Regions from separate parts of the Homo sapiens genome. Here regions 2 and 3 are each linked to region 1. Evidence: fine-mapped expression QTL. A gene starts in region 1. Each other region holds a variant in brackets. All regions are shown on one strand. Distances are between the middles of the regions.

Evidence for each region. PIP is the estimated chance that this variant, and not a neighbour inherited with it, causes the effect.
Region 2: its variant is the best candidate, but not a certain one, in a credible set for the expression of DRC1 in cerebral cortex (GTEx, PIP 0.69).
Region 3: its variant is the best candidate, but not a certain one, in a credible set for the expression of DRC1 in testis (GTEx, PIP 0.50).

The regions. Positions count from the first base shown.
Region 1 is chr2:26,399,892-26,404,137 of GRCh38, reverse strand. DRC1 (dynein regulatory complex subunit 1) reads right to left here and starts at 2,218. Exons shown (of 17, transcript NM_145038.5): 1 at 1,994-2,218. The coding sequence starts at 2,148.
Region 2 is chr2:26,376,354-26,380,599 of GRCh38, reverse strand. All of the region lies in intron 6 of SELENOI (selenoprotein I), which reads right to left. Among named protein-coding and RNA genes, the nearest start is that of DRC1, 23 kb to the left of the region's middle. The variant C/T (reference allele first, on the strand shown) is at 1,981.
Region 3 is chr2:26,433,702-26,437,947 of GRCh38, reverse strand. All of the region lies in intron 7 of DRC1 (dynein regulatory complex subunit 1), which reads right to left. Among named protein-coding and RNA genes, the nearest start is that of DRC1, 34 kb to the right of the region's middle. The variant T/G (reference allele first, on the strand shown) is at 2,323.

The DNA.
Region 1 (4,246 bases):
TTCCAGGCAAATAATGATTTTTACAATTTTTTTTTTTTGAGACAGAGTCTCGCTCTGTCGCCCAGGCTGGAGTGCAATGGCACGATCTCAGCTCACTGCAACCTCCGCCTCCTGGGTTCAAGCGATTCTCCTGCCTCAGTCTCCTGAGTAGCTGGGATTACAGGCGCGCGCCACCATGCCTGGCTAATTTTTGTATTTTTAATAGAGACAGGGTTTCACCATGTCGGTCAGGCTGGTCTCAAACTCCTGACCTCGTGATCCCGCCCGCCTCAGCCTCCCAAAGTTTTGGGATTACAGGCATGAGCCACTGCGCCCGGCCCAATTTTTTTTTTTTTTTTTTTTGAGATGGAGTTTTGTGCTTGTCACCCAGGCTGGAGTGCAGTGGCGCTATCTCAGCTCACTGCAACCTCTGCCTCCCAGGTTCGAGCAATTCTCCTGCCTCAGCCTCCCAAGTAGCTGAGATTACAGGTGCCTGCCACCACACCTGGCTAATTTTTGTATTTTTAGTACAGACAGGGTTTCGCCATGTTGGCCAGGCTGGTCTTGAACTCCTGACCTCAGGTGATCCTCCTGCCTTGGCCTCCCAAAGTGCTGGGATTACAGGCATGAGCTACGATTTTTTACAATTTTAAATGGTTTTTACAATTTTAAATGATTTTTACAATTCTAAATGGTTAATAAATAAATGGTTAAAAAAAGACTAGGATGAATAAGCAGAGCACAGGGGATTTTTAGGGCAGTAAAAATATTTGGTATAATACTATACTGGTGGGCTCGTGTCACCATAAATTTATCCAAACCCATAGGATGTACAACACCAAAAAGAAACCCTAAGGTAAACAATGGAGTTCAAGTGATAACGATGCGCCAAGGTTCATATATTGTTACAAATGTGCCCTCCAGTGCAGGATGTTGACAGTAGCTGTGCATGTGTGGGGGCAGGGAGTATATGCGAATGCTATACTTTTTGATCAGTTTTGCTGTGGTCCTAAAAACTGCTCTAAAAAATAAAGTTTATTATTATTTTTTATCAAAAGAAGGCTATTTTGTGATACATGAACAGTATATGAAATTCAAATTTCAGTGTCCATAAATAAAGCTTTATTGGAACACAGTCATGCCCATTTGTTTATGTCTTGCCTGTGGCTGCTTTTGCAATACAATGGCAATTGAGCAGCTAGGAAAGAGGCCATATGATCCGAAAAGCCTAAAATATTTACTATTTGGCCCTTTACTGAAAGGGTTTGCCGGCCCCTGCATTCCACTGATGGCCCCGCAGCAATCAGCCAGGGTGAGCGAGTGATGGAAACACACTGCAGGGCTTGGTAAGACATGTGTGCTCCAGACGGTGGGCAATCAACCCTATGAAGGCCCAGGGACTGCCATGTCATTCAAGTTTGTAGGGGTCCAGTGGTCAGTGGGATGCTGGGATAGCCTATCAAGTAAAAAACAAATCTACTGCATTTTGCATCCTCTACAGAGAAGGAAACTCAATGCCTCTTAGGCCACTTTGGGTCCTAGAGACAATACATCCCGCACTTAGGAATATTATTCAGGCTGACACAAAAAGCTGCCAGCTTTGAGTGGTGCCTGGAACAAGAAAGGACCCAGGCCACAGTGTAAGCAGCCAGGCTACTTGGGCCACATGATCCAGCAGACCCTGTGGTTTGGAGGTGTCCGTAGTGGAAAAGATGCCATGTGCAGACCACAGTCGAACGCCACCACGCCCGATTAATTGTTTGATGTTTTATAGAGATGGGGTCTCTCTATGCTGCCCAGGTTGACCATCTCCAACTCCTGGGCTCCAGTGATCGGCCCGCCTCGGCCTCCCTAAGTGCTGGGATGACAGGCGCGCGCCACGGCACCGGCCCAGCGTTTTACTTTCCCATACTCTGCCTGAACCTTCCCGAAGAAATGTTTCTATTTCATCAGGAAACCAGCCCTTCTCCGGCTCCTGCGGCGCGGATCCCGCCCCGCCCGCCCCCGCGCTCACCGCCTCCGGGCTTCTAAGCGCGCAGCGATGCGGAGGCGCCGGGCCTGGATGCGCTCCTGAGAGTTGTCGGAGTGGACCGAGGGCGCGAGAATCTGGGTGGACAAGTGCTCGTCCACGTTCGGGTCCAGGGCCTCTAGGGACCCCGGCGGATTCATGGCAGGAGTCCCTGGTCCCTAGGCGGCTCCCTCCGCACCACCTCCAGACCTCAGGCTGGTTGCTAGGAACAAACCGTTGCCAGGGAGAGCGGTCACCGGAGCCACAGCCCGAGTGGTTGCGCGCGCAGCTCCCTGGGCCCAGCCTGCCGCCAGCCGCCGTTCCGGCCGAGCATCCCAGCCTCGGGCTGACGCCTCTCCCGCCCGTGGGATGTCAGGTCTGTTGTCAGGCCCACGAAGGCCCGGTCGTGTTAGCGGAGCTGTGGAGTCTCACCAGGAGACTAGAGGACTAAAGAACTGGACCAAGTTGTGGTTCATCACTTGCTGACCCTGATGATTAATTCATCTTCCATTCATTCATCAAATATTCCTCCAACTCATATTCACCAAATAAAATTGAGCGCCTACTCGATGCCAAGCGCTGTGCTTGGATACAGGATACCAACCTGCAATCAAATACTTATGAAAGAGGAAAAGTGGAATAGAGGAAAACAGTCCGTGGGAGGGGGGAGGGATAAAAGTTAGAAATGCGGAAGCACTATTAAATTCTCAACTGTCCCCAGAAAGGCGCTATCTTCTGGGCGTCTCATTGTCAACAAAAATAGTGTTCTCATTGAGAATTAAAACCTGGCGCGCTGGCTCATGCCTCAGCCTCCCAACACTTTGGGAGGCCGAGGTGGACAGATCACTTGAGGTCAGGAGTTTGAGACCAGCCTGGTGAACATGATGAAACCCCGTCTCTACTAAAAATACAAAAATTAGCTGGGTATGGTGGTGGGCACCCATAATCCCAGCTACTCGGGAAGCTGAGGCAGGAGAATCGCTTGAATCTGGGAGGTGGATGTTGCAGTGAGCCGAGATCGAGCCACTGCACTCCATCCTGAGCAATAGAGCAAGACTCTGTCTCAAAAAAACCCAACCAACCAACCAAACAAAAACTGGATACCATTTAACAGGGTTCTGTCCCATTAGCCCGTGGGGAATTAAGGGCACTGGATGAGCAGTGAGAAAGGGTGAGTACTAGTCCTAGCCCTGCCCTGCCACCTTGGGCAAGTCACAACTTCTTGAGGAGCATTTTCTCAGCTGTTAAATGATGCAACCCACAGACAACTGTGCGGCCAAGACGACCCGTCCTTTGTGAGTAAGAACTGCCCAGAGGCAAATGGAGTGGGTTTTTAAAATCAGTTCTTCCACGTTTGCAAGCAGTAGAGAGGTTTAGGAATGCCAAAACCATCCAACAGCTATAGAGTCTAACAGCAGCTGCCTGGATCCTTGTCTCACACCTGCCTAGGTGGTGGTGGTAGGAGCGGGGGTACTTGCTTCTAGGCTTCAGGGCCTTCTGCCAGATCTCTGTCTCCTTTGGTTGAAACCTAAAGTATTAAACTCTCCTAGGAGCCATGATACAGCTCTGACCAAAAACTCGTCCAGGTCCTGGTTCATGTTTCCACTATCCGTAAGGACAGAAACAAGCATGTGTGCATGCGCATGTCTATGCCTGGGAGTGGGATACCATGAGAAAGTCAGGGGGAATCAGCTGTTGCACAAGAGGTAAGTGAGAGCAAAGGTACCATACAAACCCATGAAGAGTGACCAGTGAGATACTTGGCCCTGCACTGTTCTGATACCACTTCCAACATCTTTTTATATAAGAAATCTGACTCCATTTTTTGCTGCTGACATTTGGCTGCTGGCAGCTTTTACGCAGCACTCCCTCTTTCTTCTCCACATCTGGGCAAGCTGTTAAAAAAAGCCTAGGTGCTCTTTTTGGTGCTGGCAGATTTCATCTGCGTGCACAGGATACCCTCCTCCCAGCCTCACCCCTTAACCACAATAAAAGCCCCAAGCTTGTCTCCTTTCCTGGCTCTCTCTAGCCATTTTCTGACCAGCTGGGAGGCCCTCTTTGCTCCCACAGGCAGCCTCAATTATGTAATAAACCTTTTTCACTGGTGTGGGAAACACTTTCACTCACCGCTGGAAAGGGACCTCCTAGGAGGACAGTTTGCCAAAATCTATTAACTGTTTAAATTGGCATACTAGGGTAAAGGGTGGAATAGGGAGAGATTTGTTAAAGGATACAAAATGACAGGTTCTAGTGTTCTGC
Region 2 (4,246 bases), 24 kb after region 1:
TGTACAAGACTATTCACTGCAGCAATTTGTACAACAGCAAAAACTGGAACTAACCCAAATGTCTATTGATAGGGGGATGGTTGGACACACTACGGTACATCCACACAATGAAGTGCCAGGCAGCTGTAAGAGGACTGAGGAGGCTCCTTATAGACCACTGTGGAGTGATCGCTGGGATATACAATTAAGAGGGGGGAGGAAAAAAGGCACAGTACATAGTACAGTACATATAGAATGGAATGCTACCATGTATCTATGAAAGTGAGTGATAAAATGAAACACAAATATTTACTTATAGTAAGAAAGAAACAATGAAAAGATAAGCCATAAAATTAAAAACTAAGAATGGTTACCTCTGAGGAAAGAAAGGATTGGGTAACAACAGAAGCTAGACTTCTTTGAATATACCTCATTCTGTAAATTTGACTTTATCACAAATATTTTACATAATTATAAAGGAAAAATGAATTTTAAAAGAGAAAGTAATTCTTAAAGTAAAACAAATAAACCTAGATGTATAAATCCACAACTGGTGGCATAACCACAGAGTGGTGACTTTAAAATACAGTAAACTGACGGGACACACCTAGTGGGATAAGACGTAAGGATGAATAAAACTGCAAAAAAACAAAATCTTAATTTTCAGTTTTCCTCTGTTTGCTGATTTAGGTACTGTATTCGGAGACTGTTGTGAATAGTTCATGGAATAAAGCAAATGAGTATTCTGTGTCACTTAAAACCAAGGATTTTGTCATAGTTTAAAGGAGATAAAAATATAAGATCAATGAGGTTAAGTAAAAATTCTGTACTACCAAATTTGCTTTGGAATTATCAGTATGTATTTATGAAGTATTTTATCATAAAAACTTGATTTCCTTACCTATCCACTGAATGAATGAATTCCTAAGCCATGTTAATCAATGTCTGTTAATATTATTAGGTGAAGTTTAACCCTTAATAGTTTAAGGTAGCAGGTTAAAATATATATATATATATACTTGCAGCAGATGGAACAGACATACAAAACCTGAACCCGCTACATGCCTCCTAATGTGATGCAATAGGAAGACCAGTACCTAATAACACTGTTCCCCAGCATGCCCCCCAACCCCCAAAATTAAACCTGTATCAAAATAAGCTCACAGATCTAACTATTGTTTATAGGAAAAGTGAGGGGCAGAGGAACATGTTAATGCCATGAGACCGCAACCAGGAAAACGCAGAATCTAAGAATTCTATTGGCCAAATGACCTACTTTCTTCAATACATAAACTTCAAAGAAAAAATAGGGAAAAGCTACGTAGATTAAAAGAAATTTTTTAATTAGTTATTTATTTTAGAGACAGAGTTGCGCTCTTCTCACCCAGGCTGGCAATGGTGCAATCTTGACTCACTGCAACCTCCACCTCCCAGGTTCAAGCGATTCTCCTGCCTCAGCCTCCCGAGTAGCTGGGATTACAGGCATACGCCACCACACCCGGCTAATTTTGTATTTTTAGTAGAGACCACATTGGCCAGGCTGGTCTCAAACTCCTGCCCTCAGATGATCAGCCTGTCTTGGCCTCCTAAAGTTCTGGTATTATAGGTGTGAGCCACAGCACCCAGCCAGATTAACAGAAATTTAAAAGGCATACCAACCAAAGGCAATGTATAGGTACTCGGCAGCTATAGAAATACATCAATTGTGGTTCTTTTACAGAAAACCTTATCATTTAGAGATACACAGTGAAATATTTACGGATGAAAAGAAATGATATCTGGGATTTGCTTTAAAATAATCTAAAGGAAGGAAGGCATCTGTTAATGATGGCATAAAAAGGGAGGACAATTCTTCTCACAAATGATGATTAAAAACCAGACAAAAATATTTAAAACAACTACTTGAAGGTACTAGAAAATACTGAAGGACAGACAGAAATTCGAGAAGCATTTACACTTGAAACACTGGGGAACAACTCTGAGTTCGTGGCTTGCCTACCC[C/T]CTGTCCCAGACCAGATGATGGAAAGCCACAGTCTTCCTTACCAGCTTATGGAAGCAGATAATAGATTCAGAGCAGCAGAGGAACTAGAAAGCAGGGTGGGGGATATTGTAGAAGAGAGAGATGCAGAAGGGTTGAGATTCTAAATCTGAGTATATGCTCTGCCCAGATTCCTGGGTGGATGCTAAACTAAGCAAGCAAATCGGAGACCCCACAGAACATAGTGAAAGAGAAGGCAGAAAGTAGAGGAGATGCTGTGCTTGAAAGACAGAGGTGTTCTTGGTGAGATGTGAGTCTGCTGTATCTCTTACTAAGTGTGTTCCCAACCCACACTCAGACTGGGCTGAAGAAGGCAGAGCCCTTACTGGCTTGAGGGTTGGGGGCAGAACACAATTGCTGGAAGAGCAGCCGAAGATTCAGATGGGGAAACCCCAAAAGCAAAAAAATCATAGAGAGGTGAGCGCCAAAATCTCAGTATCGACTTTGCCCAAATCTTTGGCTGACCACTAAACTACACAGACACAAAGGAGACCCCCAAGAGACCTGGCTAAAAAAGCAGCAGCTAAAAGCTGAAAATAACCAAACAGAGACAAGAGCTACTTAATACAATGTGATGGGACAAATTTCTTCATCTGTGTCCAAACAAGTTAAATGCCTATCAGAACAAAAAACCAAAAATCCTCAGAGCAGAACAGATTATAGTCTCCACAAATATAATCTATAATATCCAGTTTTCAACAACAACAAAAAAAAAATTGCTAGGTATGCAAAGAAATAGAAAAAAAAGCAGTCAACAGAAAATGACTCTTAAGTGGGCCCAGATGTTGGACTCAGTAGACAGACTTTAAAGCAGCAATTTTAAATATGTTCAAAGAACTAAAGGAAAATATGATGATAATAATGAACAGAAGAATCTCAACAGAGAAATAGAAAGTTTAAAAACCAAATGGAAATTCTACAGCTGAAAAGTACAATAACTTTTTTTTTTTTGAGACAGGGTCTGACTCTGTTGCCCAGGCTGGAGTACAGTGGCACAATTACAGCTCACTGCAGCCTCGACTTCCTGGGCTCAAGTGATCCTCCTGCCTCAGCCTCCCAAGTAACTGGGACTACAGGCATGCACCACCATATTTGGCTTAATTTTTCTATTTTTTTGTAGAGACGTGATCCCACTATGTTACCCAGGCTGGTCTTGACTTCCTGGCCTCAAGCAATCCTCCCACCTCAGCCTCTCAAAGTGCTGGGACTACAGGTGTGAGCCACCGCACCCAGGGAAAAGTACAATAACTTAAATGAAAGACTTCCTAGATGGGCTCAACAGCATATTGGAGATGGCAGAAGAAAAAAAAAGCAATGAATTTAAAGACAGATGAATAAAAGTTATCCACTACAAAGAATAAAGAGATTAAAGAAAACTTAATAAAGCCATAGAAAATTACTTTTAGGACAGTATCAGGCAAACCTGTGTAACACACATGTAAGTGGGGTCCCAGAAAAGAAGAGAGAGGGGAAGAAAAAATATCTCAAGAAGTGAAACTGTGACTGAAAACTTCACACATTCAGTCAAAAATACTTACAGGTCCAACAGAGTCAACAGCTCAACAAATACCAAGAAAGACAAACACAAAGAAAACCACACCTAGGTACATCACAGTCAAACTTCCGAAAGCCAAAGATAAAAAGAGAACCTTGAAAGCAACAAGAGAAAAATAATACATTACAGAGTGACAATGATATATGAGCTGACTCAGAAACAATGGATGTCAAAAGACATTAAAATGATATATTCAAAATGCCAAAAGAAAAAATTCAGGCAAAATCAATACACTTTCACGTAAGTAAAAAGAGAGAATAAACTGCTACCAGACCTGCACTATAAAAAAACCTAAAGGAAGTCCTTCAAACTTCTGGGAAAGAACACCACATGGTAGGTCAAATATAAGGCAAATATGTCAGTAAGTAAATAAACTGTATATTATAACACAACCCGGGGGCTAAGCAGGGGGCTAAAGAGTACTGGTGCATTTCAAACAAGATTGGCACTGGTATTGAAAATAGTTGAGACTGGGTAATAGTACACAGGGGTTTATTATATAAAAGTAGAAACATTATAAAGAAAATTATGTGCCTATTAGAGTACACACTTAACATTAAAAAATATGTCTCATATACCAGAGGATTCTGTCTTATCTAAATTTAACACTTAAATGTAACATGCAGGAAACCTGCCATGGGACAATCAAAAGGGTCACTACATAATTGGAGAAG
Region 3 (4,246 bases), 34 kb before region 1:
CCAGCTAATTTTTGTATTTTTAGTAGAGATGGGGTTTCACCATGTTGGCCAGGCTTGTCTCAAACTCCCGACCTCAGGTGATCTGCCCGCCTTGACTTCCCAAAGTGCTGGGATTACAGGCTAGAATACTTTTATATACTATGCCGCTTCATCATATATGAAATATTTAATATGTTTACCATGTCATAATAATTTACCATTTCCCTACAGTCGTGTGTGTGTGTGTATATATATATAGTTATATATACTTTTAATAATTTTCTCTTCTATAAAATAATGCTGGGACAAATTATATATACAACTCTTAGGGAAATTTATTTCCTTATGGTAGATTCGTAGAAGTGAAATGACTAAGTCAAAAGTTCTCAATAAATTGCTTTCCAAAGAGCAACCTATGGTTTATGCTCCCACTGGCCATGGGTGCAAGTGCCCACCTCACCCCATCCTGTCAGCACTGAGCATCGTGCCGGGCAGACCCTGCAGCTCCAAGTGCAGGCCTGGCCCTTGCGGAGGGAACCTGGGGCAGGGCAGGGAGCTGCCAGAAGCTTCAACTACAACTACAAAGGACCCTTTCTGAGCCTGTTTAAAATTTAATTTTGAAATGTCTGAGTTGAACAGTATCCCAAAGGACCTATGGATGATGCCAACAACAGCACAGCCTCATTTCAATGGCAGTTATCTGGGTGGTCCCAGGCTGAGTTGCTTTGGGCCCTGTCCCCTTCTAGGGATGGCCCTGAGTGTCTCCCAGGAAAGGGATTCTCAGAAGCTCTTCTTGCAAAGTTGCAATGATTTATGCCTCCATTCCTCAAATGAAACCAGCTCTGCCACTTCAAATGTTACCAACCTTGGTCATCGTGAGTGGGTCAGGAATCAGAACACAAACCAAATACACGTGGACTGAACATAAGGGAAGCCATTGGTCTATAAGGCAGCTCGGCACAAAAGTCCAATAGAAAAGCTCCATATGGGATGTAACCATCTGAGAACGTATGAGCACTCACAGAGAAGGAGGGTCTTCGGAACTGCTCTCCATTTGGGATGACAATGAATGGCTGTTCTGTCTTCCCGGGAACTGACCCATGTGGGGGCCCTGAGACCCAGAGTGCCTGAATGTCTACTCCGATGATTTCCAGGAAGCCCTCCTTCTTCTCCTGGCCTTGCAATAATCCCCTATCCCTAAGACAGCATTTCCCAGACTTATTTGGCCATAGGATTGTTTTTATATTTACAATACAACAAGAGCATGTGAACTATAAATGCAAGCTCTACCATATGCATGCTCATGTGAATTTCATTCTTAAAGGCAGGTTATTACATAATAATATGTATATGGATGGCTGGGCATGTTGGCTCATGCCTGTAATCCCAGCACTTTGGGAGACCAAAGAGGGAGGATTGCTTGAGGCCAGGAATTCGAGACCACCCTGGGCAACAAAGTGAGAACCTATCTCTACAAAAAAAAATTTAAATTAGCCAGGCATGGTGGCATGTGCCTGTAGTCCCAGCTATTCGGGAGACTGAGGTGGGAGGTTTGCTTGAGCCTGCTGGGAAGTCGAGGCTGCAGTGAGCCGAGATCATGCCACTGCACTACAGTCTGAGCAACAGAGGAAGACCCTGTCTCCAAAAAATAAAGGGCAGGGGGAGTGGGTGGGCAAAGAACATGAACAACACTTTTCAAAAGAAGGCATACATGCAGCCAACAAACATATGACAAAATGATCAGCATCACTAATCATTAGAGAAATGCTAATCAAAACCACGATGAGATACCATCTCACACCAGTCAGAATGGCTATTATTAAAAAGTGAAAAAAAAAAAAGAAACAGGAGATGCTGGTGAGGTTGCAGAGAAAAAGGAATGCTTACACACTGCTGGAGGGAAGGTAAATTAGTTCAGGCATTGTAGAAAGCAGTGTGGCAATTCCTCAAAGAACGTAAAACGGAGCTACCATTTGACCCAGCAATCTCATTATTGGATATATACCCAAAGGAATATAAATGGTTCTACCACAAAGACACATGCATGCATATGTTCATTGCAGCCTATTCACAATAGCAAAGACATGGAATCAACCTAGATGCCCATCAACGGTAGAATGGATTTTTAAAATGTGGTACGTATACACCATGGAATATTATGCAGCCATAAAAAGAACAACATCATACGGTTTGACATAAAGTTTAAAAAAAAAAAAAGAATGAGAATATGTCCTTTGCAGCAACATAATTGGAGCTGGAGGCTATTATCCTAAGCAAACTAACATAGGAACAGAAAACCAAATACCACATGTTCTCACTATAAGTGGGACCAATGAGAACACA[T/G]GGACACAAAGAGGGGAACAGTAGACACTGGGGCCCACTTGAGGGTGGAGTTTGGGAGCAGGGAGAGGATCAAAAAACTACCTATCGAGTACTATGCTTATTACCCGGGTAATGAAATAATCTGTACAGCAAACCCCTATGACGTGCAGTTTACCCATATAACAAACCTGCACATGTACCCTGAACCTAAAATAAAAGTTAAAAATACCTGTAATTGATTTTGTTAAATGTCTGTGCTTATTATTCAATTATCCAAAGATATTTTTGCAAAGTTGCAGTTCATGTTCCCAAGACTAATGGCAAAACATGATGTTTGTGTTTTATGAGTCATCAATAAAGATTACAAGCTAACCTGCCACAAAAGTCCTTCTACGGTAAAGGTAGCATAAGTGTTGACAACACCTTCCCTCCTTTTTCCTGGAGCAGCACAAGCTTCTCCACAGCTGCTTTTGGGTGTCATCTCTTGCCCATGGGCTCAGGGAAAGAGACTGCCACCAATGTGCCAGCAGGATGGAAATTTAAAACAGTCTTTCCCTCTGGCCTTCTCTGCTGACTCTAGAGACCCCACTGGGCCTATTTACCACAATCTCGACCCTAAACTGGGCCTGCAGGATTCCATGTTGGAACCCTAAGACTGGCAATGTCATCTCAGGCCACACTGTTGCTCCCCCTTTCTGCCCCATCTCTTTCTCTTTGACACTATTTGTGTAGCTTTCTTTCTTTTTTTTTTTTTTTGAGACGGAGTCTCGCTCTGTCACCCAGGCTGGAGTGCAGTGGTGAAATCTCGGCTGACTGCAAGCTCCGCCTCCCTGGTTCACACCATTCTCCTGCCTCAGCCTACTGAGTAGCTGGGACTACAGGCGCCCGCCACCACACCCGGCTAATTTTTTGTATTTTTAGTAGAGACGTGGTTTCACCATGTTAGCCAGGATGATCTCGATCTCCCGACCTCATGATCCACCTGCCTCGGCCTCCCAAAGTGCTGGGATTACAGGCATGAGCCACCGTGCCTGGCGGTAGCTTGCTTTCTTAATAGATTATAAGTTCCTTGAGGGCAGGAGCTGTACTTTGCTTATCTCTGTGCTTTGCACAATGTAAATTAATATAGTGTAAATAAACAACATATTTAATTTGGGGGGATTAATATTCTGGTTTTAAAGGTAACAGCCCCTAAGTTTAAGCTGAACATCTTACAATCCTAAATGATTGTATAAGGCCTACAGATAAAAACATTTGCTTCCTGCATCAAGAATTAAATGTTTCTAGCAGTTTTCTTTTAGGGTGGTGGGCAGCGGTAGGGAGTTTCCCCCTAAGTACACAATGTTTACAGGCTTCTCTTTGCTCTGTTATTCATAACATGACCTTTACTGGCAGTAAGCACTTGAATAGTAAGACATTTTTTTTTACTTCTTGTACTTTACCCATCATCCAAATCTATGTGTACTGTATCCTTCCTATTTTTGTGGTTTGCAAGAATTTTAGTTCCATATTTTAGAACTGATAGAGTGCTATGCATTAGTTGCAAAGAGCAAATTTGATGTTGAGCTGCATGTTATATCTTCTTAACAAAAATCAGTGCCATTTGGCTTGAATGTCTAGTGAAAATACACTTAAGAGTCACTATGATAAAGTTTAACCTACTAAAACATTCCACATGTTGCCACATGGGTAGTCCCTGATTGGATGATTTTTTTTTTCCCTCTGTTACAGTGTGGAAAGTGGTACAGGTAGCCTCGGTTTCCATCTGACACAGGAAAGAACTAGGACGCAAAGGCTCTGTGACCCCTTTCTGCCTGAAATGTCTCCATCTGCACACATGCCACCATCAGTCAACCTGGACAGGGACAGCCAGTGGTACCAGGTCTCCCAGGCTCCCTGCCTCCCTGCCCACCACTTCTCTGATCTTACCCTACCTCCTACACCC